Homo sapiens: one gene and its partners. The protein of the gene in region 1 interacts with the protein of each later gene in a pairwise test. Each region holds a gene or a part of one and is shown in the gene's direction. Other genes may lie near its edges.

Evidence for each region.
Region 2: the proteins of CCDC33 (region 1) and USHBP1 interact in a two-hybrid assay, tested with the Homo sapiens proteins (2 studies listed by BioGRID and IntAct).
Region 3: the proteins of CCDC33 (region 1) and NDOR1 interact in a two-hybrid assay, tested with the Homo sapiens proteins (2 studies listed by BioGRID and IntAct).
Region 4: the proteins of CCDC33 (region 1) and BLK interact in a two-hybrid assay, tested with the Homo sapiens proteins (3 studies listed by BioGRID and IntAct).

What each region holds. Positions count from the first base shown.
Region 1 is NC_000015.10:74,232,090-74,239,341, forward strand, and holds the start of CCDC33 (coiled-coil domain-containing protein 33), read left to right. Parts: upstream 1-4,236; 5' UTR 4,237-4,630; coding exon 4,631-4,651; intron 4,652-7,252.
Region 2 is NC_000019.10:17,248,646-17,254,745, reverse strand, and holds the end of USHBP1 (harmonin-binding protein USHBP1), read left to right. Parts: intron 1-2,728; coding exon 2,729-2,835; intron 2,836-3,041; coding exon 3,042-3,164; intron 3,165-4,331; coding exon 4,332-4,521; 3' UTR 4,522-5,575; downstream 5,576-6,100.
Region 3 is NC_000009.12:137,201,279-137,208,713, forward strand, and holds the start of NDOR1 (NADPH-dependent diflavin oxidoreductase 1), read left to right. Parts: upstream 1-4,421; 5' UTR 4,422-4,499; coding exon 4,500-4,634; intron 4,635-4,953; coding exon 4,954-5,031; intron 5,032-7,435. Other genes in the region: TMEM203 (transmembrane protein 203), read right to left, coding at 3,726-4,136. UniProt on the Homo sapiens protein: NADPH-dependent reductase which is a central component of the cytosolic iron-sulfur (Fe-S) protein assembly (CIA) machinery.
Region 4 is NC_000008.11:11,553,387-11,560,411, forward strand, and holds part of BLK (tyrosine-protein kinase Blk), read left to right. Parts: exon of another isoform or gene 1-194; intron 195-743; exon of another isoform or gene 744-817; intron 818-1,356; coding exon 1,357-1,503; intron 1,504-1,945; coding exon 1,946-2,098; intron 2,099-2,199; coding exon of another isoform or gene 2,200-2,465; exon of another isoform or gene 2,466-2,476; intron 2,477-2,679; exon of another isoform or gene 2,680-3,271; coding exon 3,272-3,451; coding exon of another isoform or gene 3,452-3,529; intron 3,530-4,503; exon of another isoform or gene 4,504-4,575; coding exon 4,576-4,652; exon of another isoform or gene 4,653-4,879; intron 4,880-7,025. UniProt on the Homo sapiens protein: Non-receptor tyrosine kinase involved in B-lymphocyte development, differentiation and signaling. B-cell receptor (BCR) signaling requires a tight regulation of several protein tyrosine kinases and phosphatases, and associated coreceptors.

The sequences.
Region 1 (7,252 bases):
AACTCTTGGCATGAGACCTGGCACACAGTAAGTGCTCACTAAAAGTTGGGGGTGTGAAGGGGCTGGTGGTGACGATGACAGCAGTAATACCAGGACATCAGGCGGGGCGAGAGATTGGGCCATGGAGAGGGGCTCACACAGCAGGTATATCAGCCAGGGTCCTGCCAGGAAAAAGAAGGCATTCAAATTCAGGAGCTTGAGGGGAGTTTAATAAAGGGACTATTTACAATACTGAGGGTGGGGTTTAGGAAAAACAAGAGGGAGACTACAGCGCCTTGGGGGCTGGAACCTGTGAGAAGCCTTCCCTGACTCCTAGGTTTGAAGAGACAAGAGGGAACAATGACCATAACCTGGAAAGGCACTTGTATGGAGAGAGTTGGCTGCCAGGCAGAGTCCAGGAAAGTGTGCCTCTCTCCCAGAGCCCCCACACTTGGCCTTCTCTTTTCCTGACTCTTGCCCCTTCCCCCATATCTCCCTATCACTCTTTCTCCATTGCTTTTGGGCAGCTGAGTTGGATGAGGTGGGAAATGTAGGCAGTGTGATTTTATAGCAAATGGCAGCTCATAGCTGTGTGATCTTGGGCAAAATGTTAACCCTCTCTGAGCTTTGGTTCCCGTCCTTATCCAGTGGGAGAATCAGGACTGCTCTGAGGGCCGAATGAGACCATGAAGGTAAAGCTCTTAACGCGGACAGTGAAGTCCCCCAGACGTGCTTGCTTTTTTCCCTGCTAACCAACTTTGGACTTGGTGAGTTCTCCCCCACTGGAATGGGCCAGAGAAGTGAGAAATGGCCATGGGGTGAAGTCTGCATGTCTCCACCAGCGCTTGAGCCTTCACACCCACCCAGACCAGATATCATCCCAGGCCCACTTGCCCTCTTCTCTATCCCCTCTCTGTTCCCGGCTTCCAGGCCCACGCCCATGGCCGCACCTTTCTCAGGTAGCCCTTCAACAGAAATGTCCCCTTTCCTACCTAAATCCAATGTGTTCTCAGGGTCCTGCTCAAGGCCCTTCATCCCGGAGGCCTTCCTCGACCCCTTTATCTCCTGCTCTGAACGTGTGTGCAGTCCTCCTGGTCCACAGCAACACCTCCTGTGTGTGTGCTGCTTCTGGAGCTGCAAGTTCACTCCTGGTATGTAAGAAACATGAGGCAGGGGCGTGGGACCAGGGCAAGTCCCTGCCCCTCCTTTGATTATTTTGACTGTTGTCTACTGAAGCATTTCCTTTAGAGGGTCTCTATGCTCCCACTGCCACGCACCCTCGGCCCCAGTGGTGTAGACAGCAGGTCTTCACTTGTTGGCTGAAGGATGGAAAACTCTGAGAGGGCTCCCCGCTCTGAATCCACCGGCTGCTGGCCAGGACCTTCGAGGGCTGCTCTGACCTCATATAAGTTATGAGGCTCAGCCTCAGGAGTTTCTGCAGAGAGATTGGAGAGCTGGCTTTGCCCTGTGCTTCCACAAGGGCTCTAACTGGGCCCCTTGAGGCCAGTTCACACCCCACCCCTTAAGGTGCTGAGCTGGGTTTAAACTGAAGTCACTGCCACCCAGAGCTGCACTAGAGAGAACTTGCCAAGCCCAAGGTTGGTTAGCAGGGAAAAGCGAGCATGCCTGGAGCTCATAACCATCCGTGTTAAGAGCTTTACCTGCGTGGTCTCATTCAGCCCACAGAGCAGCCCTGATTGCCTCACTGAATAAGGATGGGAACCAAAGCTCAGAAAGGGTTAACATTTTGCCCAAGATCACACAGCTTTGAGCTGCCATTTGCTACAAAATCACACTGCCTACATTTCCCACCTCATCCAACTCAGCTGCCCAAATGTGGGGGTGGGACAGGACTCACAGGGAAGGAAAGGCCAAGTCAGGAGGCGGGGGCGTCTCTGGAAGACAGACACACTCCCCTGAGTCTCATTGCATGGGTAGTTTGTCCTCACAGGCTGCTTCCTCAGACTCCAGGCCCCAGACATGGCATGAGGAAGCAGGGCTGACTATGAGCCACATCTGTCTACCCAGATTCTTCTTGCTGTCCAGCCAGCAAGATCCCTCCTTCCCCAAGAGCCAGCCCCAGATCCAGCCTCAGGGGCTTGCCCCTCCCAGAACTATGGGCTCTCTAGTGGCCACATTTAACCCCTGGCCCCTCCTAGTGATATAGCTCCAAGTGCTGTCTCCTGTGGGTAGGGGGTGGGCACAGTTATCTATTAGCTGTGAGATTAATCATTCCCTGCTCTCCCTCACCCTGGAATCTCCCTGAATCATCACAGCTTGGGGCTGGCCCCTGGACATTTGAGGAGCAAGCCCACTTCTCTGGGCTGGGGATATAGAGCTCACCTTGCTGGAGGAAGGGGAGGAGAAGGTAGAGCAGCTGGGCTCATGCTGCTAAGGCCTTCTCACAGGCAAGGAGGAAGCAGCTCTCGGGGGAGGTTAGGACAGGCACAGGAGCTGGTGTCTCAGGGGTCCTTGGTCTGGGGAGGTGAACAACCAGCAAGTCAGGAGGTAGAAGGGCCCTACTGGTGGCTGCTGAGTGCACAGGGCCCACTTGCACCCTGGAGCCAGACGGCCTGGAACCAGTGCCCAATCGCATTATCTTCCCAGGCAGGAAGATGGCAGGGGCGTGGCTGCAGAGGCAGAAAGCTCAGATGCCAAGGAGGGTAGCTGGGTGAGAGCCCCGAGCCCCGGGGACTGAGGCAGAGCTGCAGGGCAGGGCAAGGACCACAGTGAGGCAGGCAAGGTGGCCAGGGCACAAAATGTGAGGCTCTGTGTCGGGAGCGGAGCGCTCGCACAGCCCTGAGAATGAGTGCTTCATTAAAGTTTGCTTCCTAGGCACCTGGCTTGCATCTTCAGTCCTGCTGCTAGAGAAGGAGCAATGGCTCCCCACCCCCTGAACCTGCTGCCCTAGCCTCCTAGACTAAGCAGGCCTGAGAGGTTGGGGGAGATGCGCTCTAGAGAGACTGGGGGAGCAGCCACTGAGACCTTTCCACACATACACACTGTGCTGGGACATGTTGGCCCACAAGGGAGATAAAGCACAGTGCTCACAGCCAGGCCATTCCTGGTCAGGCCCCCAGCCCCAGAGCCCCAGGAGTACCACTCTTGGCAGGCCTAGACGGGGAGAAAATTAGGAGTGGGGTTCCTGACTACCATCCCCCACCAGTGTCTGGGTGACCTTGGCTGGTCCTTTCAGTTCTAATCAAAAGCAAAGCCTCAGTTTTTCTGTCTCTAAACTGGGGAGAACCACATCCTTGCTGCTGCTCTCTCTGGAGTGGGGGTAGAGAGGGAGGCTGGGAGGCCTCTGCAAAGCCGGAGTCTCCTGCCTCCTGGCTGCCAGGCTGGTCCTGCTCTTCGGCCAGATTAAAAGAATCTCCAACTTGGGGCCCAAAATAGGTAGAAATGAGGCAGGCCACAGGGGCCCCCCAAACACTTCTGAACACTGCCCAGTACCCCAAATCCCTCCTCTTCTAGCCCAGGATTTCTGATCATTCTTCGAAGCCCAGTTCAGACCTCACCTCTCTATAGAGCAACCCCCCACCCCAGGCCAAGGACTAGTCTCTCTTCATTCTGCCATCTCACCTCACCAAAAGCACTTAGGACCCTGCCTGGCGTGCAGCAAATGCTCTTTGTCTTTGTAATAATTTCTTGCAGTGCTCAGAACTGAACCATAATCTTTGGTTCGTACTCTAGTGCCATCACTGACCCATCATGGCTTTCTTTAATTGTTTAATTATAATTTATTTTCAATAATGTAATGAATTTCCATTAACTGACCACCCAATCTAAAAACCCAAAAGTTTAGAATGTATGCTCTTACCCTCTTCTCTCCCCGATCTTCCCACCCACCCTCCAAGAAGAAACCATCCTCTTGAAGTTTGTGTTTATTATTATCAAATAAATGGAAGACTATAGGTACCCAAAGAGGCACGATGGCTGGTAGATTCTTCAACAGAAGTAGCTGTTTTACCGATCAAGCTGCAACACTCTTGAGAGCAGTGTCTGCTTCCTCTTTTGCTGCAGCTTGAGCAGCATGGGGCTGGCCACACCACAGGGTTGGTGGAGACTACTTGAGGCACCAAGAGCAGGAAGGGTGGGGCCTGAGTGCCAGGCGGCAGGTGGAACACAGCTCCAGGAATAGGGAAAAGGGCTTCGCGTTCTAGCTCACTGCACCTGGACAGGTGCCTGTGTGACTTCGGCCCTGCCCTGTGACATCACACAGTGTTGCCCAGGTGACCCAGCTAGGTGGAAGAGCTTATTGTTTTCCAGGCCTGGGCAGAGACAGGGCCCCCCTGCCCCATCTCTCCACCGTCCTAGGTGTGCCAAGAGTCAATTGCCTCATTGCTGACCCTGTCCAGCTGGCCATGGCCCTCAACCCCCAAGGCCCTTCCACCCACAGACCATCTCGCTGCTGAGAGATCCAGGACCTGCTCCCACCTGGCCACCCTCCCCCTCCCCCCACATCCAGGCCCCAGGGCTGGTGTGTGGCACCCCTGAGACCACATTGACCTCCATACTGTCTACTACCCATAAGGACTCCAAGACGCCCAGGCCAGCTGTCTGGGCAGGACTGATTCCTGATCACCCACTGATACCAAGTACTCATCCCCAAGATTGTTAAACAAGGCCAGACACTCCTGGCCTCAAGAGGATGGGACTGAAAAACAAAAAGGTAAGGCCAGGGGCATGGGCCATGCACCTGCATGAATCCGTCCCTCCTTCAAAGTCCTTCCTTCAAAGTTTTGTTTGCTCCTTAATCATGACAAAAGCTTCCCTTCCCTGGGTCTCAGTTTTCACAGCTGTGAAATGGGGAGTGAGGTGGTCTCTGTGGCTCTCCCAGGTTAGCTGCCCTATACTCTTGGGCCACACGGGAACTGGAATGCAGTGTACTTGCAGGTGTTGTCAATGCTGACCACCCTTACCTGGTTGTTTCTGCACTCTTATTGCTGGGGTCACACAGTCTGAGAGCCCACTGAGATGGTTCATTACCCCTGTCCAAGATCTCCCAGGAGATTCCCAGGCTGCTGGCTTGGCAGCCCTGATGCCCCCATTGCCCCCATGCTCTCCAATCCCTGGCCCTGATTTTCTGGGGCCTAGGCCCCTGTCCTGGAACACAGATGCTTGGGTCTCTGAAGAGAAGGGATTTTTGTGTGTTTTGTTGATCACCGTATCCCCAGCACTCAGAACAGTGCCTGGCACATAGTGGGTGCTTAATAAAAAGCTGTGGCCCAGCAGCAGGGCTCTGTCAGGAAGGGACTAGAATCTCAGTGTGATGAGATGTAAACAGTTGAATGTAAGGGACCCCTTACCTTCCTCTCACTAGCAAGGCTGAGCCCCTGCCCTAGATGGTGTTAACCCACAGGGATAGCAGAAGGAGCTGAGACCAAAGGCACACAGATACTTGCAAATGGGGGATACCCTCTTTGTAGTTACACTCAGGTTGAATAAGCCAAATAGCTGGGGGTGCCCAGGCCCTAGTGTGATTTCCACTTCATTACTCTTGATTTTGATGTCTCTGGTTCCTGATGTTCTCTGCCCACAGCTGCCCCCCACCCCCTGCAGACTCTGCCCTCCCCATTAAGCCTCTTTCTGTAATGCCACACACTCAGAACCGGTCACCAGGTTGACCTGGCACCCTAAGCTGCCAGCTGGTCCCCACCTGCCCCACAGAGCTGGATTTGGGGATCTGGGGAGTGTGCGTGGGAGTCCTGAGGAGGAGCCAAGGTTGCTTTGATTAGTAGCTTTGAGAAGCGCTTTTGATAGCTGGGTAGAATCGCCTATAAGGATGCTCATCATGGCCGGGGGTGGTGGCTCACGCCTGTAATCCCAGCACTTGGCGAGGCCGAGGCAGGAGTTTGAGACCAGCCTGGCCAACATGGTGAAACCCCATCTCTACTAAAAATACAAAAATTAGCTGGGTGTGTTGGTGCACGTCTGTAATCCCAGTTACTCAGGATGCTGAGGCAGGAGAATCGCTTGAACCTGGGAGGCAGATGTTGCAGTGAGCCGAGATCACGCCACTGCCCTCCAGCCTGGGCAACAGTGTGAGATTCTGCCTCAAAAATAAAAGGACGTTGGCCAGGCCTGGTGTCTCACTCCTGTAATCCCAGCACTTTGGGAGGCCAAGGCAGAAGTTCGAGACCAGTCTGGCCAACATGGTGAAACCCCGTCTGTACTAAAAATACAAAAATTAACCAGGCGTGGTAGCGGGCACCTGTAATCCCAGCTACTCGGGAGGCTGAGACAGGAGAATTGCTTGAACCCAGGAGGCGGAGGTTGCAGTGAGCCGAGATAGCACCACAGCACTCCAGCCTGAGCAACAAAGAGCAAAACTCCATCTCAAAAAAAAAAAAAAAAAGGATGCTCATCATGTATATATAATACATATTTGTGTTTCTTCTTTTGTGAATCCCCAGTTCATGTTTTTTAAATTGGATAATGTTTATAGGTTTCAGTGCTCTTTGTATACTAGGGATATTAATCCTTTTTTAAATATGCAGCAAACATTTTCTCCTTTTTTTCTTTTCTTTGTATTGCAGGGCATTTTGGACCATTATAGAAGTTAGTATAGATTTTTAAAATGTAATCAAACCTATCCCTTTTTAATGATTTCTGACTTTTGTGTCATCTTTTGGAATGCTTCTCTGCTCCAAAGAACATAATTCCTCTTGCTGCCACCAATGGATACTCAGATTATGAGTTCAGGGGGGCATCCACTGTGGAGCAGAGAAGGGATCCACATCCAAGGAAGCATGGTTAGAGCACAGCAGAGACAGCAAGAGTGTGGGGTCAGACAGACCCAGCTTCCAGTTCCAGCCCTGGCCTCACTAGCTAAGCTGTGTGCTTTCATACAAGAGGTTTACTTTCTCTGAGTGTGCTTCCTCACCTGTGAAAGAGCTTTCCCCTGGCCGCCATAACTCTCAGGCAAGTTTAGATGTTGAAACTAGAAGGAACATGGGGGACCATTTTTAACTGAAAGTCCTTGTGAAACTGCTGGGAAATAGCCCCACTGCAGTCAAGTAACTTGCCCAAATGACAGATCCGGGCAGCCAGGCACCCTGCCTCCCAGCCCAGCCCCGCTCCAGCTAGTGTGACTTTTCAGACACACGGCCCTTCTAGAGGGCAGAACTGGGCTCAGCTCCTCAGGCCTCCCAGGCTGCTGGAGGATAGGGAGGAGTGGGTGGAAGAGTTTGTCTCCTTCCATCTCTCTCCCCACCAGAACCAAGTTAAGCACCCCCCAACCCACCCGCGGGAGCTGAATTCAAGGACCATT
Region 2 (6,100 bases), on another chromosome or scaffold:
CGGAGTTGGAGGCTTCAGCGAGCCACGATTATGTCATTTCACTCCAGCCTGGGCCACACAGCGAGACCTCATCTCTTTTTTTTTTTTTTGAGACAGAGTTTTGCTCTTGTTGCCCAGGCTGGAGTGCAATGGCCCGATCTTGGCTTACCACAACCTCCACCTCCTGGGTTCAAGTGATTCTCCTGCCTCAGCCTCCTGAGTAGCTGGGACTACAGGCACGCGCCACCACGCCCGGCTAATTTTTGTATTTTTAGTGTAGATGAGGTTTCCCCATGTTACTAAGGCTGGTCTCGAACTCTGAACCTCAGGTGATGCGCCCGCCTCAGCCTCCCAAAGTGTTGGGATTACAGGCTTGAGCCACTGCACCCGGCTTATTTATTATTATTTTTTATTTTTTTTGAGGCAGAGTGTCGCTCTGTAGCCCAGGCTGGAGTGCAGTGGTGCAATCTCGGCTCACTGCAAGCTCCGCCTCCCGGGTTCACGCCATTCTCCTGCCTCCGCCTGCCGAGTAGCTGGGACTACAGGCGCCCGCCACCACACCCGGCTAATTTTTTTTGTATTTTTTTAGTAGAGACGGGGTTTCATTGTGTTAGCCAAGATGGTCTCGATCTCCTGACCTTGTGATCCACCTGCCTCAGCCTCCCAAAGTGCTGGGATTACAGGCGTGAGCCACCGTGCCTGGCCAATTTTTGTATTTTTTAGTAGAGATGGGGTTTCACCATGTTGGCCAGGCTGGTGTAGAACTCCTGACCTCAGGTGATCTGCCCACCTCAGCCTCCCAAAGTACTGGGATTACAGCCATGAGCCACAGCGCCTGGCCTTTAATTTTTTTTTTCTTTTTTTTTTTTTTTGGGAAACGGATCTTGCTCTGTCACCCAGGCTGGAGTGCAGTGGTGCGATCTTGGCTCACTGCAATCTCTGCGTCCCAGGTTCAAGCGATTCTCCTGCTTTGGCTTCCCGAGTAGCTGGAATTACAGGCGTGCACCACCACACCCAGCTAATTTTTGTATTTTTAGTAGTGACAGGGTTTCACCATGTTGGCCAGGCTGCTCTCAAACTCCTGACCTCAGGCTGATCCGCCCGTCTCGGCCTCCCAAAGTGCTGGGATTACAGACGTGAGCCACCACGTCCAGCCTAATTTTTAAAAAATTATTATTGGCCAGGCACGGTGGCTCACACCTGTAATCCCAGCACTTTGGGAGGCCGAGGCGGGTGGATCATGAGGTCAGGAGTTCAAGACCAGCCTGGCCAACATGGTGAAACCCTGTCTCTACTAAAAATACAAAAAAATTAGCTGGGCATGGTGGCACGTGCCTGTAATCCCAGCTACTCCAGAGGCTGAGACAGAGAATTGCTTAAACCTGGAGGGGTGGAGGTTGCAGTGAGCCGAGATTGCGCCACTGCACTCCAGCCTGGGCGACGAGACTCCGTCTCAAAAAAAAAAAAAGAAAAAAAAATTATTACTGTCCGGGCACGATGGCTCATGCCTGTAATCCCAGCCTGTAATCTTAGCACTTTGGGAGGCCGAGTTGGGCGGATCACGAGGTCAGGAGATCGAGACCATCCTCGCTAACACGGTGAAACCCTGTCTCTACTAAAAATACAAAAAATTAGCTGGGGATGGTGGCGGGCGCCTGTAGTCCCAGCTACTCGGGAGGCTGAGGCAGGAGAATGGCGTGAACCCGGGAGGCAGAGCTGGCAGTGAGCTGAGATCACGCCAGTGCACTCTAGCCTGGGCGACAGAGCGAGACTCTTCTCAAAAAAAAAATTATTATTATTTCAAACAAGGATTAGACAGGAGGAAGGACTTCCAGTGGATCTCTAGTTTTTGTTTTTGTTTTTTTGTTGTTTTTTTTTTTGAGACAGAGTCTCACTGTGTTGCTCAGGCTAGAGTGCAGTGCTGCGATCCCAGCTTACTCCAACCTCTGCCTCCCAGCTTCAAGTGATTCTCCTGCCTCAGCCGCCCAGTTAGTTGGGACTCCAGGTGCCCGCCACCATGCCTGGCTAATTTTTTTTTTTGAGACCGTATCTTACTCTGTTGCCCAGGCTGGAGTGCAGTGGCATGATCTTGGCTCACTGCAACCTCCGCCTCCCAAGTTCAAGCGATTCTCCTGCCTTAGCCTCCCAAGTAGCTGGAATTACAGGGGTCTGCCACCATGCCAGACTAATTTTTATATTTTTAGTAGAGACAGGGTTTCACCATGTTGACCAGGCTGGTCTTGAACGCCTGACCTCAAGTGATCCACCCGTCTTGGCCTCCCAAAGTGCTGGGATTACAGGCATGAGCTACCACACCTGGCCCCTAAATTTTATTTTTAGAGATGAGGTTCGAGACCAGCCTGGCCAACATGGTGAAACTCCGTCTCTACTAAAAATACGAAAAGTAGCCGGGTCTGGTGGCATGTGTCTGTAATCCCAACTACTTGGGAGGCTGAGGCAGGAGAATCGCTTGAACCTGGGAGGCGGAGGTTGCTGTCAGCCAAGATCGTGCCACTGTACTCCAGCCTGGGTGGCAGAGTGAGACTCTGTCTCAAAAAAAATTTTTTTTAATTAAATAGGATATTTCCCTTATCAGAGTATAATTTTGCTCTTATTGGTATATCGAACCAGATGTGGGTCTCTGAGAGCACAGCAGCTGCCACTGTCTGGGCAGCTCCAATGTCCAGTGTGGGCCAAGCACGGACTTGGCCTAGGTTAATGTCACTTTCTTGTCTTCTGCCTCCCTTAGGGCCTTCCTGCTGTCCCTGGTGGCACCAGTGGCATTGATGGTGGCCAGGTGGGCAGAGCCTGGGACCCAGAGAAGTTAGCCCAGGAACTGGCAGCATCGCTCACCAGGTGTGTGCCTGGGTCCTGGGCTGTGCGGGGGGTGGGCAGGCAGCCTATGTGAGAGCCCCCGGGGGTGTCGTCTGCAGTAGAAGCTAAGGTGTACCCCGGTGTACAGGTGTGTTTACATGACAATACTGTGGGCAGGTGGGTAGGAGGAGACCTGGGAAACAGGATCGGCTGGGGCTGTGAGCCCCCTCTCTTCTCCTTCGCAACAGGACACTGGACCTGCAGGAGCAGCTGCAGTCTCTGCGCAGGGAGCTGGAACAGGTGGCTCAGAAGGGGCGAGCCAGACGGTCTCAGAGTGCCGAGCTGAACAGGGATTTATGCAAAGCCCACAGGTAGGACTGTTCTGCATCCCCCCAATCCCCCTGGCACCATCCCCCACCAGGATATCAGAAGTATCCCTGGCTGTCTCTGGGCCTTAGCATTCCCCACTGCCCCAAGATAGGCAGTAACGGTCAGGTGTGGTGGCTCACACCTGTAATCCCAGCATGTTGGGAGGCTGAGGCCAGCAGATCACTTGAGGTCAGGAGTTTGAGACCAGCCTGGCCAACGTGGTGAAACCCCATCTCTACTAAAAATACAAAAATTAGCTAGGCGTCTTTGCACGTGCCTGTAATTCCAGCTACTTGAGAGACAGGAGAATTGCTTAAACCCAGGAGGTGGAGGTTGTGGTGAGCAGAGATCACACCACTGCACTCCAGCTTGGGTGACAGAGCAAGACTCTGTCTAAAAAAAAAAAAAAAAAAACAACAGGCTGGGCCAGGCGCAGTGGCTCACGCCTGAAATCCCAGCACTTTGGGAGGCCAAGGTGGGCAGATCACCTGAGGTCGGGAGTTCGAGACCAGCCTGACCAACATGGAGAAACCCCATCTCTACTAAAAATACAAAATTAGCCAGGCGTGGTGGCGCATGCCTGTGATCCCAGCTACTCGGTAGGCTGAGGCAGGAGAATCGCTTGAACCCGGGAGGCAGAGGTTGCAGTGAGCCGAGATTGTGCCATTGCACTCCAGCCTGGGCAACAAGAGCGAAACCCCATCTCAAAAAACAACAACAAGAAAAAACAGGCTGGGCATGGTGGCTCACGCCTGTAATCCCAGCACTTTGGGAGGCTGAGGCAGGCGGATCACCTGAGGTCAGGAGTTCAAGACCAGTCTGGGCAACATGGTCAAACCCTGTCTCTATTAAAAAATACAAAAAAATTAGCTGGGCGTGGTGGTGGGCGCCTGTAATCCCAGCTACTTGGGAGGCTAAGGCAGGAGAATCACTTGAACCCTCGAGGCAGAGGTTGTAGTGAGGGGAGATCTTACCATTGCACTCCAGCCTGGGTGACAAGCGCGAAATTCTGTCTCAAACAACAACAACAACAACAACAAAAGACCAGCTAGCTGGGACCCTTGGAGACCCAATGTGAAAGAGCCCCCATTCTGGGAGTGGGAGTACACGGCCCTTGCCTTGGGTGGACTCGGGGGCTGTTTCCTGACCCAGCCACCCACCCCTTCCAGCGCCCTGGTCCTGGCCTTCCGAGGAGCCCACCGGAAGCAGGAAGAGCAACGCCGGAAGTTGGAGCAGCAGATGGCACTCATGGAGGCTCAGCAGGCCGAGGAGGTGGCGGTGCTCGAAGCCACTGCAAGGGCCCTGGGGAAGCCCAGGCCTCCCCTCCCGCCTCCCCAGCTTGGGGACACCTTTCTGTAGGCCCCTTACCCAGCCATGTCTGGACATGCCAGACAGCTGTGGCATGTCATAAACTGTCCTGGAGTGACATCATGTCATGTTGCATGATTTGGCATGTTGGGGCACATTTGGCGTGAGGGAAGCTGGTGCACATGGGTGTCCAGGGCCTGATGGGGTGTGGCCAGGCAATGAAGAAAGACTCAGGTGTCTTTGGCCTGGCACCAAGTGGAATGTGAACTTCATATCAGTGGGGTCAGGCCAGAAGCAACCTGGGCTATGGGACCAGGTCCCTGGGACTGACGCATTTCGGGGGTCCGTGAGGTTGCATAGCCACAGCTGAAGTTCCAACTGGCCTGTCTCCCGAAGCCCAGGGAGGGATTCATGGGGACTGGACAGAGCTTCTCCTGGCAGCCCCTTCCCAGGGAGATGCTGGGTTTGGCTGGCAGATTTTCCTGAAGGGGGCCGGGCTCAGTGGTGCACATCTGTAATCCCAGCATTTTGGGAGGCCAAGGTGGGTAGATCACTTGAGCCCAGGAGTTCAAGACCAGCCTGGGCAACATGGCAAAACCCCATTTCTACAAAAAAATACAAAAATTAGCCAGGCGTGGTGGCATGTGCCTATAAAGATATTTAGGAGGCTAAAGTGGGAGGGTAACTTGAGCTTGGGAAGTGGAGGTTGCAGTGAGCTGAGATCACGCCACTGCACTCCAGTCTGGGTCACAGAGTAAGACCTTGTCTCAAAAAAAAAAACAGGCCAGGCGTGGTGACTCATGCCTGTAATCCCAGCACTTTGGGAGGCTGAGGCGGGGAGGATCACCTGAGGTCAGGAGCTTGAGACCAGCTTGGCCAACATGGTGAAACCCCCGTCTCTACTAAAAATACAAAAATTGGCTGGGTGTTGTGGCACATGCCTGTAATCCCGGCTACTCGGGAGACTGAGGCAGGATAATTGCTTGAACCTGAGAGGCGGGGGTTGCAGTGAACCGAGATCGCGCCAACAACAAGATCGTGCCCGGGCAATAAGAGCAAAACTCTGTCTCTAAATAAATAAATAAAACACAAAACAAAACAAAAAGGAGGGAGACTGAAGCTGGAATGGTTCAGATTCAGGGTGTGGATGACGAGTTGCTACTAACTCAAAGCTAAGGTCAAGGGTTTCTGGACTCCATGTGGTCGAGCTTGCCTGTAATCCCAGTATCTCAGGAGGCCGAGGGAGGAGGACTGCTTGAGCCCAGGGGTTTAAGACCAGCCTAGGCAAAATAGGAGAGTCTGTCTCAAAAATAAATAAATAAAATAAGGTAAAGGGTTTCTGGGTGGGGGACAGGCATAGCAAAGGTAATAGTCTGGGACTCAGGGGGCGTTGTACTTCAAGAGAAACTCAGAATGAATGCCAATGGTGGCCAGTTCCAGCTTTCTCCTGGGGGCCCAGGAGCTGTGGGACGTGTCAGGTTAATAGCAGGCAATGAATTAGCATGTCATTTGCATAAGTCACATCTCCCTGCCCCTCCACACCAGGACTGGCTGAGTCTGGGAAAGGGGAGCTTGGAACGACCCAGCCAAGCTTGGATTAGTGGCCAGCTGTCCCCCTTCAGGGTGGCAG
Region 3 (7,435 bases), on another chromosome or scaffold:
TCCTCCGACCTCCGGCAGGTGCCTGCGGGGCTTGGAAATGCCAATTCTGGAGCCCCGAGCAGCCCCAACGAACCAGTTTCTCAGAAATCCCTAGTTTTTATAGGCTGCCCAGGTGGGAGCCTCTTAACCCAACCTTGCCATCCGTGGTCCCCAAAAAGCATCTGCAGGAGCAGGCACAAAGGAAGCAGCCTCTCCCGCCACACGCAAGCAGGTTCACCAGGGCAGGGCCCTGCATGCTTGGAGAGCTCTCCAATGCATTCAGAGCCAAAAAAAAAAAAAAAAAGCCAGGGTAACGGTGGGCCCCATAGGGCCGACCCCTGTGTCTGATTATTCCACCCTGCTGCCACGTTAAGGTTACTCCTCTCCCATCGGTTGAACGTCCCCTCATCAAGGCTCCGGATACCATGACCCTGAGGGCACAGCCTCCCGGCTGACAAGTCCCTTCTGCCCCAGGGAGGGCTTCAGAGTGCTTCCACAGCCTTTCAAGCCTGCAGACAATAGGGAGATCGCTTGGAGTCACGGGGAGAAGGGGAATTGGAGTGCACGGACATCACCTTCTTTCCATCACCTGCCCTGCAGTCAGCAGCCTGCTCAGTAGACACTGCTGTTTCCCACACCAAGGTCGCCTGGGTCTCTGCAATGATGCAGAACAGATTTTTTTTTTTTAACTTGGGGATGCCCTTCTCAGCTTCTGTGCCCCATGACAGTCTGCAGCAGCCGCTAGCTTAATGCTTGCCTTATTCTCCTGCCACTCCATTAAGCTGGAGAAAATAAACTTTTTCTTTTTCTTTTTTTTTTGAGATAGAGTCTTGCTCTTGTCACCCAGGCTGGAGTGCAGTGGCACGATCTCGGCTCACTACAACCTCCGCCTCCAGGATTCAAGCGATTCTCCTGCCTTCGCCTCCCAAGTAGCTGGGGTTACAGGTGCCCACCACAACGCCCGGCTAATTTTTGTATTTTTAGTAGAGACGGGATTTCGCCATGTTGGCCAGGCTGGTCTCGAACTCCTGGCCTCATGATCTGCCTGCCTTGGCCTCCCAAACTGCTGGGATTACAGGCGTGAGCCACTGGGCCTGGCCAGAATAAACTTTCATTTCAGCTTTCCAGAAGCCAAGTGTCTCCTCCCTTAGGGCCCTCCTCAAATCACCTTTCTAAAGGAAGCATCTGATGTTCATCACTTCTACCCTAGTAGGGTTGCCCAATTCTGAACTACCAAAATAAAACAGGGGAACACACAAAACACAAAATCTAGAAATAAATAACATTACGAGGAAACTCACTCCCACTGTTCAGCTTGAATCTGGCTTTGACAAAAGTTATGCCAATCCCAGGCTGGACACAGTGTCGTAGCAACAAACCAGATAAGCTGCCTCCAACGCAAGCCCCTCCATGGTTTACACAACTAAGCATACACGCCAGGCAGAGGCTGACACCGCACTCCGCTGGCCAGGCTGATGCATGAGAGCAGAGGTCAGCACACCTGTTCTGTAACGAGCCAGATAGGAAATTTTTTTTTTTTTTTTTTTTTGAGACAGAGTCTCGCTCTGTCGCCCACGCTGGAGTGCAGTGGTGCTATCTCGGCTGACTGCAATCTCTGCCTCCCAGGTTCAAGCAATTCTCCTGCCTCAGCCTCCTGAGTAGCTGGGATTACAGGCATGCGCCACCATGCCCAGCTAATTTTAGTATTTTTAGTAGAGACGGGGTTTCACCACGTTGGTCAGGCTGGTCTCAAACTCCTGACCTCGTGATCTGCCCGCCTCCGCCTCCCAAAGTGCTGGGATTACAAGCGTGAGCCACCGCATCTGGCCCCAGACAGGAAATATTTTAGCCCACTGGTTTTTGCCAGGGACAATTTTGTTCCCCAGGGCCCTTAGCAATGTCTGGATAAACATCTGCTTGTCACAAGTGAAGGCTGCTACTGGCATCTACCCAGGAGAGGCAGGAGCACTGCGAAACAGACTGCATCCTCACTAGAGAATCTTCTGGCCCCAAAGGCCAAGAGTGCCAATTAAGAGACCTTGGACTCTGAGGGTCATATCCACTCTCTGTCACAAGTTCTGCTTTTGTTTTTTTTTTTGTTTGTTTGTTTTTTTCTGAGACAGAGTCTCGCTCTGTTGGCCAGGCTGGAGTGCAGTGGCGTTGTCTCGGCTCACTGCAAGCTCCGCCTCCCGGGTTCACGCCATTCTCCTGCCTCAGCCTCCCAAGTAGCTGGGACTATAGGCACCCGCCACCACGCCCGGCTAATTTTTGTATTTTTAGTAGAGACAGGGTTTCACCGTGTTAGCCAGGATAGTTTCGATCTCCTGATCTTGTGATCCACCCACCTCGGCCTCCCAAAGTGCTGGGATTACAGGCGTGAGCCACCACGCCTGGCCTGCTTTTGCTTTTAATCATTTAGGGGTGTAAAAACCATCCTCAGCTCAAGGGTCATACAAAAACAGGCCTTAGGACATTGTTTGCTGATCCCTGCTCTACAGAGTGCCAACAAGGCCCACAAAGACCACACTCTGGCAAGAAGTCATGGGCTCTGGGGTCACAAACTATTCAATGGGTCTTTAACATGAGCCCAGATTGTTGTCTTCATACAGGGTGGGGGGGGGGGTGCCTGAGTTACCCACCTCCTAGAGCAGGAAGGAGGGATTCTCCAGAACAAGTGATTCCCACCACCACCATCCACTAAGCTCTAGCCACAGGTTTCAATCCATTTAAAACCGCAGCTCTGTAACCAGCTACACCACGTAGCAGAGAGTATCTCAATATTCATCCTATTTAACCCTTGAGGGTTACAGGCAACCACTATTCATTTCAGGAAAACATTCTCTTACTTTATTTGCATCTCAGCAAAGGTTCTCATGTGGCACCTGACTGGCATCAAACCAAAGTTCGTAGGCCAACAAAGATGGGCCACTCACAAGCTTCCCATTTGTAGATCTCAGTGCCTATGAGTATCTGACACCTGTTCCTCTCTTCAGTCTCTTAGGGAGGCTTAAATCTGTCTCAGGTGTGCTAAGAGTGCCAGCCCAAGGTGGTCAAAAGTCCACAAAACTGCAGTCTTTGCTGGGATAGTAAGCCAAGCAGTGCCTGGACAGCAGAGTTCTTTTCTTGGGCAACAGATAACCAGACAGGACTCTAATCGTGCTCTTATTCAACATTCTTCTGTCTCTGCCTAGACTGGAATAAAAAGCCAATCTCTCTCGTGGCACAGGGAAGGAGATACAAGCTCGTTTACATGTGATAGATCTAACAAAGGCATCTACCGAAGTCTGGTCTGGATAGACGGCACAGGGAGCTCTTAGGTCAGCGCTGCTGGTTGGAGGACATTCCTGAGTCCAGCTTTGCAGCCTTTGTGCAACAGTACTTTCCCAGGATCCACAGGAAATACTCAGAGTCCACCTGGACATTTTACTTATATTCAGTTTCCAAGTGTCAGAGGGGTTCAGGACTGTCTGGCCTGGGGGGCCTCCTCATGACCTCAATTCAGGATTATCTACTCAAAGCATTAAACAAAAGGAAATACATTTTCAGGATGAAGGCTGCTCTTTTAAGCCCTGCTGAAGAAACCATTTCAAACAGGATTGGAATAGGGAAACCCGGCACTCAGCTCGGCGCAAGCCGGCGGTGCCTTCAGACTAGAGAGCCTCTCCTCCGGTGCGCTGCAAGTAGGGCCTCGGCTCGAGGTCAACATTCTAGTTGTCCAGCGCTCCCTCTCCGGCACCTCGGTGAGGCTAGTTGACCCGACAGGCGCGGATCATGAGCAGCTGCAGGAGAATGAAGAGCGGGGACGTAATGAGGCCGAACCAGAGCTCCCGAGTCTGCTCCGCCAGCTTCTGGCACAACAGCATCTCGAAGACGAACTTGAGACTCAGGACCGTAAGTACCCAGAAAAGGCGGAGCACCGCCAGCCGCTTCTCTCCATCCTGGAAGAGGCGCACGGACACGATGGTGGTGAAGTAGGTGCTGAGCCCGTCAGCGGCGAAGAAAGGCACGAACACGTTCCACCAGGAGAGGCCCGGGACCAGGCCATCCACACGCAGTGCCAGCAGCACAGAGAACACCAACAGGGCCAGCAGGTGCACGAAGATCTCGAAGGTGGCGAAGCCTAGCCACTGCACCAGCTCCCGGAGCGAGAAGAGCATCGCGCCCGTTGAGCGCGGGCCGGGGCCCGGCCGAGCGTGCCACCCGCGGGGCTGCGTCTCCTCTCCCCGTGGCCCTCGCCCGCGCCTGCCGCCGCTGCTGCGAGCGAGAGGCAGCGAGCGGCCCCGCCAGCCCCAGCCCTCGGCCCTGATGCGCCGGCAATCCCCCGGCCCCGACCCGGGACTCAACCCTGGCCGCCCGTGAACGCCCGCCTCGATCGGACGCCATGCCCCCACAGGGCGCGTCCCTAGTGCGTCACTTCCGGTCGACGGCGGAAGGCGGAAGGCGGAGCGGTCCCTGCAACCCGGCCGGCGGGAACTGCCTTCTAGTTTTTAGTCTCAGACCAGACCACCGGGCGCACCCCGATGCCGAGCCCGCAGCTTCTGGTGCTCTTCGGCAGCCAGACAGGCACGGCTCAGGATGTGTCGGAGAGACTGGGTCGCGAGGCCCGGCGCCGGCGGCTTGGCTGCCGGGTGCAGGCCCTGGACTCCTACCCGGTGGTGAGGGCTCGCTAGGGCCTCGGCGTGGGGGACGAGCAGGCCTGGCGTGCCCGCCTCGCGGGGTCATCGACCCAAAAGGCGTCGCATTTTCTCTGAGAGCGGGTCTTTCCCTTATGGCGGATTTAGGGAAGGAGGTTTGGGAAGGGGAGTTCAGTTTAGCACCTGGAGGAGGTTGGAACCTGAAAGAGAAGACGGTCTGGCTGCTCACATAAATCCCTCTGCCCTGTCAGCCTGAGTAAAGGAGAAGGGGGTCAAGTTTTGGGAAGGACGCCCGGTCCTTACAGCCGGAGGTCTTACGTGTGTGTGTCTTTTTGTTGAGGTGAATCTGATTAACGAGCCCCTGGTGATATTTGTTTGTGCAACTACAGGCCAAGGAGACCCCCCTGACAACATGAAGGTAAGGCTGGCCTGATGTGGCTCCTCAGATCCCTGCCCTCGACCCTCACCCCGTTTTCATTGCCTGGCGTCTAGGTGCAGTAAATAGCTCTCCTTTATCTCATGCACCTTCAGAGGTGGATTTGAGAGAACGTCCGTGAGTGGGGCTGGGGGCTCCGGTTGCCCTCTCTAATAAACTCGTCGTAGCCACCAAATAGCCTTATTATCCGTTTTAACCTTTCTTATTTTTCCAGGGCTATCTATATGTGCATCTAGTCTGGGTCTTGTGTGTATTTCTAGACTGTATGACCCTCAGGGAACGTTGCTGAATTCTCTGACCATCTTTTAAGCACATATTCTATTCTTGGCACAGTCTGGTGCTGGGGATCCAGCTGTGAACCCAGCAGCCATATTTCCATCCTGGCAGAGTTCACACTGTAGCAGAAGCAGCTAACGGGCAATGACAGTGCCAGCAAACACCTGCTGCTGGGGAAAGTAGCATATGTCACAGGAGCACTGATAAGGGGCATCGAGCCTTATCTCACCCAACCTTGGGGCCCAGGCAGAGGTTTCTGGAAGAAAAGAGTGTAAGCTGAGTCACGGAAGGATGCGTGAGGGCTAGTCAGGCACCGAGGAAGAAGGAGCAGTCAGCGCAGAGGAAAAAGATGATTTGGTTTGTGTGAAAAGTGGAAAGCAGCTCAGGGTGGCCAAGCTGAGGAGTACACTGGGGCAAGAGGGGAGGAGAAGAGAGGCAGGAAGCCAGGCCCAGTCCAAAGAGCCTGAGTAACCACAGCAAGGCAGATGGGCTTGAAATGAAGGGTTGTCGGAACTGTAGGGGTGACACAGTCATGTTCCTAAGCTAGCAAAACCGCACTGGTCTGCAGGACAGCAGGAATAATGCCATGAGATGCACAGGACAGGCAGCAGATGCTACCGATCTGAGCTGAAGTGGTGGCAGAAGATAGAAGTGGACACATTGCAGTGGTGTCAGGAAGAGAGAGTCCCCGGGACATGGAACGGACCCAATAGGTCAAGCAGAATCGAGACAGGGATGTGGGCTCTGGAACCAAGATGGATGGTGGTTCCATCCACAGAAATCAGAGAACACGGTGGGAGTAGGGGGCTGTGCAGGAAGGGAACCTGGAGACATTGAAGTGGAGAAGTGCAGTAGGACTAGCGCTCCAAGGAAGATCCTGGGGCGGAGATAGGTGTTGAGGTAGCCACAATACAGAAGTGTGAGAAGAGGAAGCTCCTCTCTCCCCACAGGACAGGCTGCCCAGAACGTTAGAGCCCAGGAGGGCAGGAGAGTGACCAAGCAGCTAGAAGAGAGGGTGCAGCACCCCAAGGAGAGGACTGGGGGAGTGAGTGTTCCAGGAAGGGCTCTGGCATGTAAAGCTGCACAGAAGTCAAATCAGATAAAGCCTGAGAGGGATCCATGGGATTTCTTGGCAAAGGGATTGTTGGTGATACCAGGAAGAGCAGCTTCAGTGGCTCATGGGGAGAGAAGCCAGATTACAGGAGATCAGCAACTGAGAGAGTGAGTGGAGAGCATCTTTTAAGAATGTCTTGAGTGCGGGCCGGCTGCGGTGGCTCACGCCTGTAATCTCAGCACTTTGGGAGGCCGAGGCGGGCGAATCACGAGGTCAGGAGTTCGAGACCAGCCTGGCCAACATGGTGAAACCCGTCTCTACTAAAATTACAACAATTAGCTGGGCACGGCGCAGTGGTGCGTGCCTGTAATCCCAGCTACTCGGGAGGCTGAGGCAGGAGAATCACTTAGACCAGGGAGTCGGAAGTTGCAGTGAGCTGAGATTGCGCCACTGCACTCCAGACTGGTGACAGAGCTAGACTCTGTCAAAAAAAAAAAAAAAAAGAAAAAGAGCCGGGCACTGTGGCTCACACCTGTAATCCTAGCACTTTGGGAGGCCGAGGCAGGCAGATCACGAGGTCAGGAGATCGAGACCATCCTGGCTAACACGGTGTGAAACCTCGTCTCTACTAAAAATACAAAAAACTAGCCGGATGTGGTGGCGGGCACCTGTAGTCCCAGCTACTCGGGAGGCTGAGGCAGGAGAATGGCGTGAACCCGGGAGGCGGAACTTGCAGTGAGCCGAGATCGCGCCACTGCACTCCAGCCTGGGCGACAGAGCGAGACTCCGTCTCAAAAACAAAAAAAAGACAAAAAACAAAACAAACAAACAAAAAACCACATCTGGCTGTGAAAAGGCTAAAGAGTTAAAAAGAAGGAGTTTTTTATGAGAGACGTTTGCCGGGCACAGTGGCTCATGCCTGTAATCCCAGCAATTTGGGAGGCCGAGGTGGGAGGATCGCTTGAGCCCAGGAGTTCAAGACCAGACTGGGCAGCATCATGAGACAGAAAATTCAAAGTGAACTGGTGCAGTGGCTCATGCCTGTGATCACAGTTA
Region 4 (7,025 bases), on another chromosome or scaffold:
AGGTTTTGTGAAACTGAAGCTGATAGGATCTGAGGTCGTCTTTACAAAGGACACCAAATTGTCAGAAGCCATCAGGGACGGGGCCTCAGAGCAGCCAGGCAAGTGAGGGGTCTAAAGCACCAGCTTGGGAAGCGTCACTGCGTGGAGAGCGGGCTCCTGGGCTCATCGCCCGAGGCACCCGACACAAGTGCAGCCTACAAAATGGAGAGAAAAGCCCTTGATGAATGAACTCCCTAAGGCCAGGCTCGGGTTCCTTAGAGACTGGGGGCACAGCTGCACCCGGGCAGGGTCGGGGAGACAGTTTGCAGCCTCTGGGCTGAGGCTGGGGTGGGGGTGTGGAGGGGCTGTGGCAACAGCATGGCGTACGCCTCTGGGTGTCCTTTTGCAAGTAGGTGATGAGAGAGGCACATTGGCTGAGGGAAACTGGAGGATGGAAGGGGGTTGAGGCAGGGGAACTGACAGGAGAGGAAAGAGCCTTAAGTCAAACAGGACCGCGGAAAACCAAGCGTCCACAACGAGAACGAGGGGTCCGTGCCTGACCCCTGGCGGGGAGGCGTGGTACTGCTCGAGGTAGGCGCGGACTCGGGGAACCGGGAGCCCCCCAGCCTGCCGCGAACTCTGCTGGGCCCCAGCGTCCTCATCTCCCAAATAATGGGTAAGGGGCGGGGTAAGGTCATGGTACCCAAGTAGCTGGACAGACGCATTTTATAAAAACATCAAGTTCATGGAAAAGCGTTTCTTACCTGGAAATTCTTACCTCCTAAATTGTCCTTAACCCTTGACATCTGCTACCACTTGCCTGCGGGAAAACATTAACCTAGAAGACAAAATAACAGGTGTATGTAACAGGCAGCAAATGACTTTGAACAGAGCCCCTGGGCATAGCTTATTACGGTGTCCGCCATGGACATGGGTACTTGCAGCTGTGAATGGCTATCTGCTTGTAGGAGTAAGAGATACCCTCTTTAGCCAGAAAATAAAGCCCCTAGTCACTCCAACGAGACTAGATTTCTCAATAGTCCATGACAAAGGGTCCCCGAGTGACCAGATGCCCAAGTGGGGACCTACATGATTGCTGAGAAACTGTGCTGCCTGCCGCAGGGCTCTGTGATTCCCTGGCTGAGTTTTGCAGGATAGTGGGGGGATGCCAAGGTCAGAGTCAGATGGAACTTACAGGGGAGGCTTCCAAAAGCATGGAGGTTGAGATGCAGGGAAAGGAAACTTGTGGAGGGAGTGCTGATAATGAAGAACAGAATTGGGGAACTTTTTTCAAAGCTTTAAAATGAGGCCCAAATCCCAGTCCCGTTTTTTGTCTTTGTGCCTTACTTCTCGTGTGTGTCTTCATGAACCCTCCAGGTGCCTTCTCCCTGTCTGTGAAGGATGTCACCACCCAGGGGGAGCTGATCAAGCACTATAAGATCCGCTGCCTGGATGAAGGGGGCTACTACATCTCCCCCCGGATCACCTTCCCCTCGCTCCAGGCCCTGGTGCAGCACTATTCTAGTAAGAGGGGGCGTGCAATGGGGGCAGGGACTTGTGCCAAGAGCCCCTGGATCTCTCGCTAAGATTCCCAATTGTGTGAGTCATTGGTGCCACCTTGGGGGATGGAAAGATTATCCCAAAGTTAGGCCTAAGGAGGTAGCAACTCTGAGCACCGGGAATTGGTGGCCCTAATTCCCTCTCCTGGCTCAGCAGGGAACCCCTTAGAGAGTAGCAAGCATTTTCAGTCTTAGAGTGAGCAGGTCGATTTTAGAGATAGCATGCCCTGCTTTGCGCAAACGAAGAGAAAGAGTTGAGTGTGTGTGCATGTGCAGGCGTGTGCACACACCCATGCAGGGGGTGGGGTGGCTGGGGAGTGGAGGGCCAGCTAGGAATGATACAGCTCCCAAGGTAGAGCCTGGCTGCTCTGGTAACCCCCAGCCCTGTCTTTTCTTCCCTAATGCAGAGAAGGGGGATGGTCTATGCCAGAGGCTGACCCTGCCCTGTGTGCGCCCGGCCCCGCAGAATCCCTGGGCCCAGGATGAATGGGAGATCCCCCGGCAGTCTCTCAGGCTGGTCAGGAAACTCGGGTCTGGACAATTCGGCGAAGTCTGGATGGGTGAGTGTGTGCACACGTGGGAGCATTTCTCCCCCCATTCCACCTGCGCCGCATCCTGAGTCCAGGTTCAGCATTTTCATAGCGTGTCATCCCTCCCCCAGAAGTCTTGAGAGGGAGCGAGGACAGAGGCGAGGACACTCATTTTACAGAGGAGGAAGTGGAGGTGCAGAGCCGCGTTGTAACAGCTGGGACCGCTTATGGTGGTGGCAGAGCAGGAACAGAATCCAGCTCACCCAGCCCCGAAGTCGCTCCCTCCTTCGTTCTCTGCCTGAAGCTGGCTTTGACAATGAGCTGCAGCGGCGCGTTAACTCCCCTTAGCTTTTCATCACCCAGATGGAAACAGGAGGTTAAACGTGATGAGCCATGATGTTCCAGAGCCTGAGTGCACACCGAGGGCAGCCGTGGGACTTTGGCCAAGTCACTGAAGCTCCAGGCCTGGTGTCCTCACATTTCCATCGCTGCTGACACCTGCCCCCTTCCCCCCCCCGCCCACCAGGATATAAAACTCGTGTTCCGTTTTATCCCTGGATTGGTCCATGAGTCCTCCCTTACCTGGGGCTGGTCCATGAGTGCTCCCTTACCTGGGGCTGATGCCCACGGTGCTTTTGGCAGGAGCTGTACCCAGGTCCCTGCCAAGGCCCATGTCCTCTAGAAAAGCAAGTAGAGTTGTCTTTTGCCCTTCAGGGGACTTCATGGAGTACAGGGAGAGTGTGGAGATACAGATAGTTTAAGGAGTGGGACAGGATCGCCATGGGGCTTCAGAAGGAGGGAAGGAGACCCCCATGCGTCATCCTCCTGCCCAGTGTACCCCAGGCTGTGTGCTTATTTCCACCAAGGAGTTATTGTGTGATAGAAGAGACTCATTATGTAGGGGAGGGGTGGGGGAAGGACACAGGTTCCGTGCAGGACAGAAGGACACAGGCCCAGGGTGTGGGGCAAATAGGTGAAATGCCCCCCAGGCAGGGTACATTCCTCCACTGCCTGAGGCCCCATATAGAAGGGACCTGGAACGCAAGGTAGGCACCACACAACCATGGCCTCCGGAACTGCATGTTCCAGCTCTGGCACCTGGAATGGGGTGGCACCTGGGCACTTACCCCGATTTTGGTTAAGGGATCACCTCCGAGCAAGCTCTCTGTCTTCTGATTGGCTTCTTCACTCCCCCGGGCTCAGGTTACTACAAAAACAACATGAAGGTGGCCATTAAGACGCTGAAGGAGGGAACCATGTCTCCAGAAGCCTTTCTGGGTGAGGCCAACGTGATGAAGGCTCTGCAGCACGAGCGGCTGGTCCGACTCTACGCAGTGGTCACCAAGGAGCCCATCTACATTGTCACCGAGTACATGGCCAGAGGTGGTGCCCCCCGCAGAGCCGCATCCTCAGAGCGAGGCGGGAGGGCCGGGCTTAGCAGGAGGAGGAGGGTCCGCTGCGGTGGGTTCACCAGGCCAGGGGGTCCTGCAGATCTAGGGCATGGCACGGTGTGGGGACAGGGAGGGATGGAGGGAGGGGGAGGGACAGAGGGAGGGTGAGAAACAGGAGGGTGAAGTGGTTCTGACAGAGCCATGTTCTCAGCCCAGGAGCAGTTCAGACAGCATTTCTGGAGTGCATCTTCTGTGCCTAGCACTCTTTGATGCCTGCTGGGAGGGACAGAGCATTGCAAAGTCAGACGAACACCAGGCCAGGCATGCAGGGACAGTACTAGATCCAGGTCTCCTGCCTCCTGGTCATGCAACCATTTACAACTGTGTGAATATTTTACAAGGATGGCCAGAGAGGTTGGGCTTGATGGCCTCTGAGGTCCACGGCGTGGCCAAGTTCTCATGCCACTTTCTCACCCTCCTATGACCCTGACCGCACACTGCTCCTATAGGATCCTAACATGCCCATGTTGATATAGCTCCCTAACAACTGTCACCAAGGGGCCCCCGGTCGGAGGCTGTGCTGGGGGTGCCTCTAGCCTGCCCCTAGGGCAAGCATCCATCCCTCCCAGCTTTCTGATTCCAGGGGGAGCTGCATTTGTCCCCTGCACCAAACCTGGGGGACAGTTCTCTCCATTCTGGTGCTTTCTTGCTGATGCCTGGTCCTCAGAGGCAGAGGGTGTCTGCCAGCAGGGATCAAGGGAGCGAGGCCAACACGGGGGGAAAGACAAGAAGGGGCATGAAACTTCGAGTCAGAACTGGGGTCCCACTCCCAGCTCCCGGCTGGGTGACTTCAGACAGGTCCCTGCACCTGGCTGAAACCTAACTTCTGGGCAACTGCTGGTATATTGGCTGCCTCCCGGGGTGCTGAGACTGGCATTTTGTAAAGTGGAAGGCACTCGGCAGCAGTAGGTAGATCCTTCCTGATGCACCGAGAGATCTGAGGGTGCAAACTCCCACTTCCCGCGCCCATGGGGAGCCACTCACACCAGAGAGAGGCTGGCACCACCAGGGGCGGGTCACTTTGCAGAAGGGCACTTGCAACTTCTCTTTTCTTAGGATGCCTGCTGGATTTCCTGAAGACAGATGAAGGGAGCAGATTGTCACTCCCAAGGCTGATTGACATGTCGGCGCAGGTTGGTGAAGTACCAGGTGCAGAGAAAGGGCGGCATGTGCCACCTGCTGCCCACAATGGCTGCTCGTGCCTTACCACCCCATCCTCTCAGCCAGCAGGAGAAGTCAGGGGGTACTGAAGGCCACCTTCCTCTAGGCAGATATCCCCAAGGTCACCCACTGCACTTGGACTTGCAAACCCTGGCCACTGTGCCTCCTGCCCCACGCAGCTGTGAGGGAGCCCAGGGAATGGAGCCTTAGACCCGGGCTGCTGTGTTGGAATGAGGCTATTCTGTTCCGAAGGAAGAGAGGGCGAATGAATGTCATGGGAAACACACAGAGTTAGCAAGAGTTCCATTGAACCCGGCAGGCAAGTGTGTTCTGTTGTGACCTCATCTCTTCCTTAGATGGTGCCCACAAACATCTCCTGTAGGACTTCCCATCCCAGGGGCCCTCAGCCTTTGCACAGCCCTGGCGTCGACCCCAGGCTGATGGGCAGGCCTGAGCTACACACAGATGCCAGGGACATGACTTCTCTGAGCCCTGGAGGACAGCCCCACCTTCTGCCACCAGGGAATTGCGAGTGCTGGACCTCCTTGGCTACCCAGGACTGGTCCTCAGTGTCCCTCACGTTCACATGCAGAACTTTCTGGACTCCATGGGGTGAAGAGCAGAGTGGAGAGGAGGGTTTTAGCCGAGAGCTCTAGCTGGCAGGAAGCACATCTGGTGGCCCTGTTAAAACTGGAACTCTCAGCAGAAAAGTTTTGGTCTGTGGTCAGCCTGTGAGGCACACACGTGCGTACACATACACACACACATACAGCTGCCACCGAGAGGAAACGCTCCCACCCACCGCCCACATCAGCCCTCCCACCTCGCCCCTCGCCCAGCCTTACCCAGTAGCGCCGCTGCAGGAACTGATGCCACAACGCCTTTTTCCGCTGAGGTGGGCAGACAGCCATCTGGGCAGGCTGGTTTTGGAAAATGAGTGCTGGTAACCGGCTTCAAACCCCAGGGCAGTGATAAGCCTGCCCACTGCTGCTGCTTCCTTTCCCCTTCCTTCTCTCACCCTCCGCTGTCTCCTATTCAATCCCCACTACACCCCCTTGGGAAATCTCGTGTGACCCAGGGGCAAAGGATGTGAAAAGCCATCGGAGTTTAATACCTGGATGTAGCCACAGAATCGGGGGTGAGGAGCCAGAAAATCAGAACTTCCCAGAAGGGCAGCCTCTAACCACATGCTGACCATGCCAATGGCTCTCTAAGCACACATGTACACACACACACTCTCACACACATAAAAACACAGACTCACACACACACGGACAAACACAAACACATACACAGACTCACACAGACACGCAAACTCACACACAGACAGACACACACACAGACACACAGACTCACACACACAAACTCACACAGACACACAAATACACAGACTCAGACTCAAACACAAACTCACACAAACACATTTACACAAACTCACAAACTCACACACACAAACACACACACAAACACGCAAACTTACACACACATGAGCAGACACACACCCGGCCCTTCTGGGCTCTTCTTTTCTTACTCCATAGGAAGCCATGCAAAGTCTCGCCAGACCTTTCTTCCAAGGCCAGATCTGGCCAACCCCACAGGAACCCTGCAATCACAATCCCTCGGGCCCCACTTTGCAGCCAGATGCCACCGGTTCCCATGCCCCATGCCTCGCCACCCCTCTACCTCCTCTGCCCAGGAAGCCTTGAACACTTCCCACCTGGCAGAATCCTTATCATCATCCATGGCTCAAGCGTAATGTCATTTCTATGAAGGTTTCCCTGGACAAGAAACTGCCAGAGAGCCCTTAGCTCAGGTGTTCCCGGAAGCACTGTTCTTGCTCAGCAGATCTGGGCAGCTTCTTCTTGAAAGCAGATCTGGGCCCTACTCAACATTTTTTAAAATATATTTCTGGTACTGTTCAATAAATATTAGTTATCAGAACGAGTACTGTTAGATGCTGCCCAGATATATTTAGTACTCAGTTTTATATTCCCCACAGTCCCATATTAGTAAATGAGTATTGATTGCATGGTGTAGCAAGGGGATGGATGGATGCATGGATGGGTGGATGCGTGGGTGGGTGGGTGGGTGGGTGGGTGGGTGGATGGATGGATGCATGGATGGATGGATGGATGGATGGATGGATGGATGCATGCATGGATGGATGAATGGGTGGATGGATGGATGGGTGGGTGGGTGGGTGGATGGATGGATGGATCCATGGATGGATGGATACATGGAAGGATGCATAGATGGATGGATGGATGGATACATGGATGGATGCATGGATGTGTTGATGGATGGATGGGTGGGTGGATGGATGGATGCATGGATGGATGGATGCA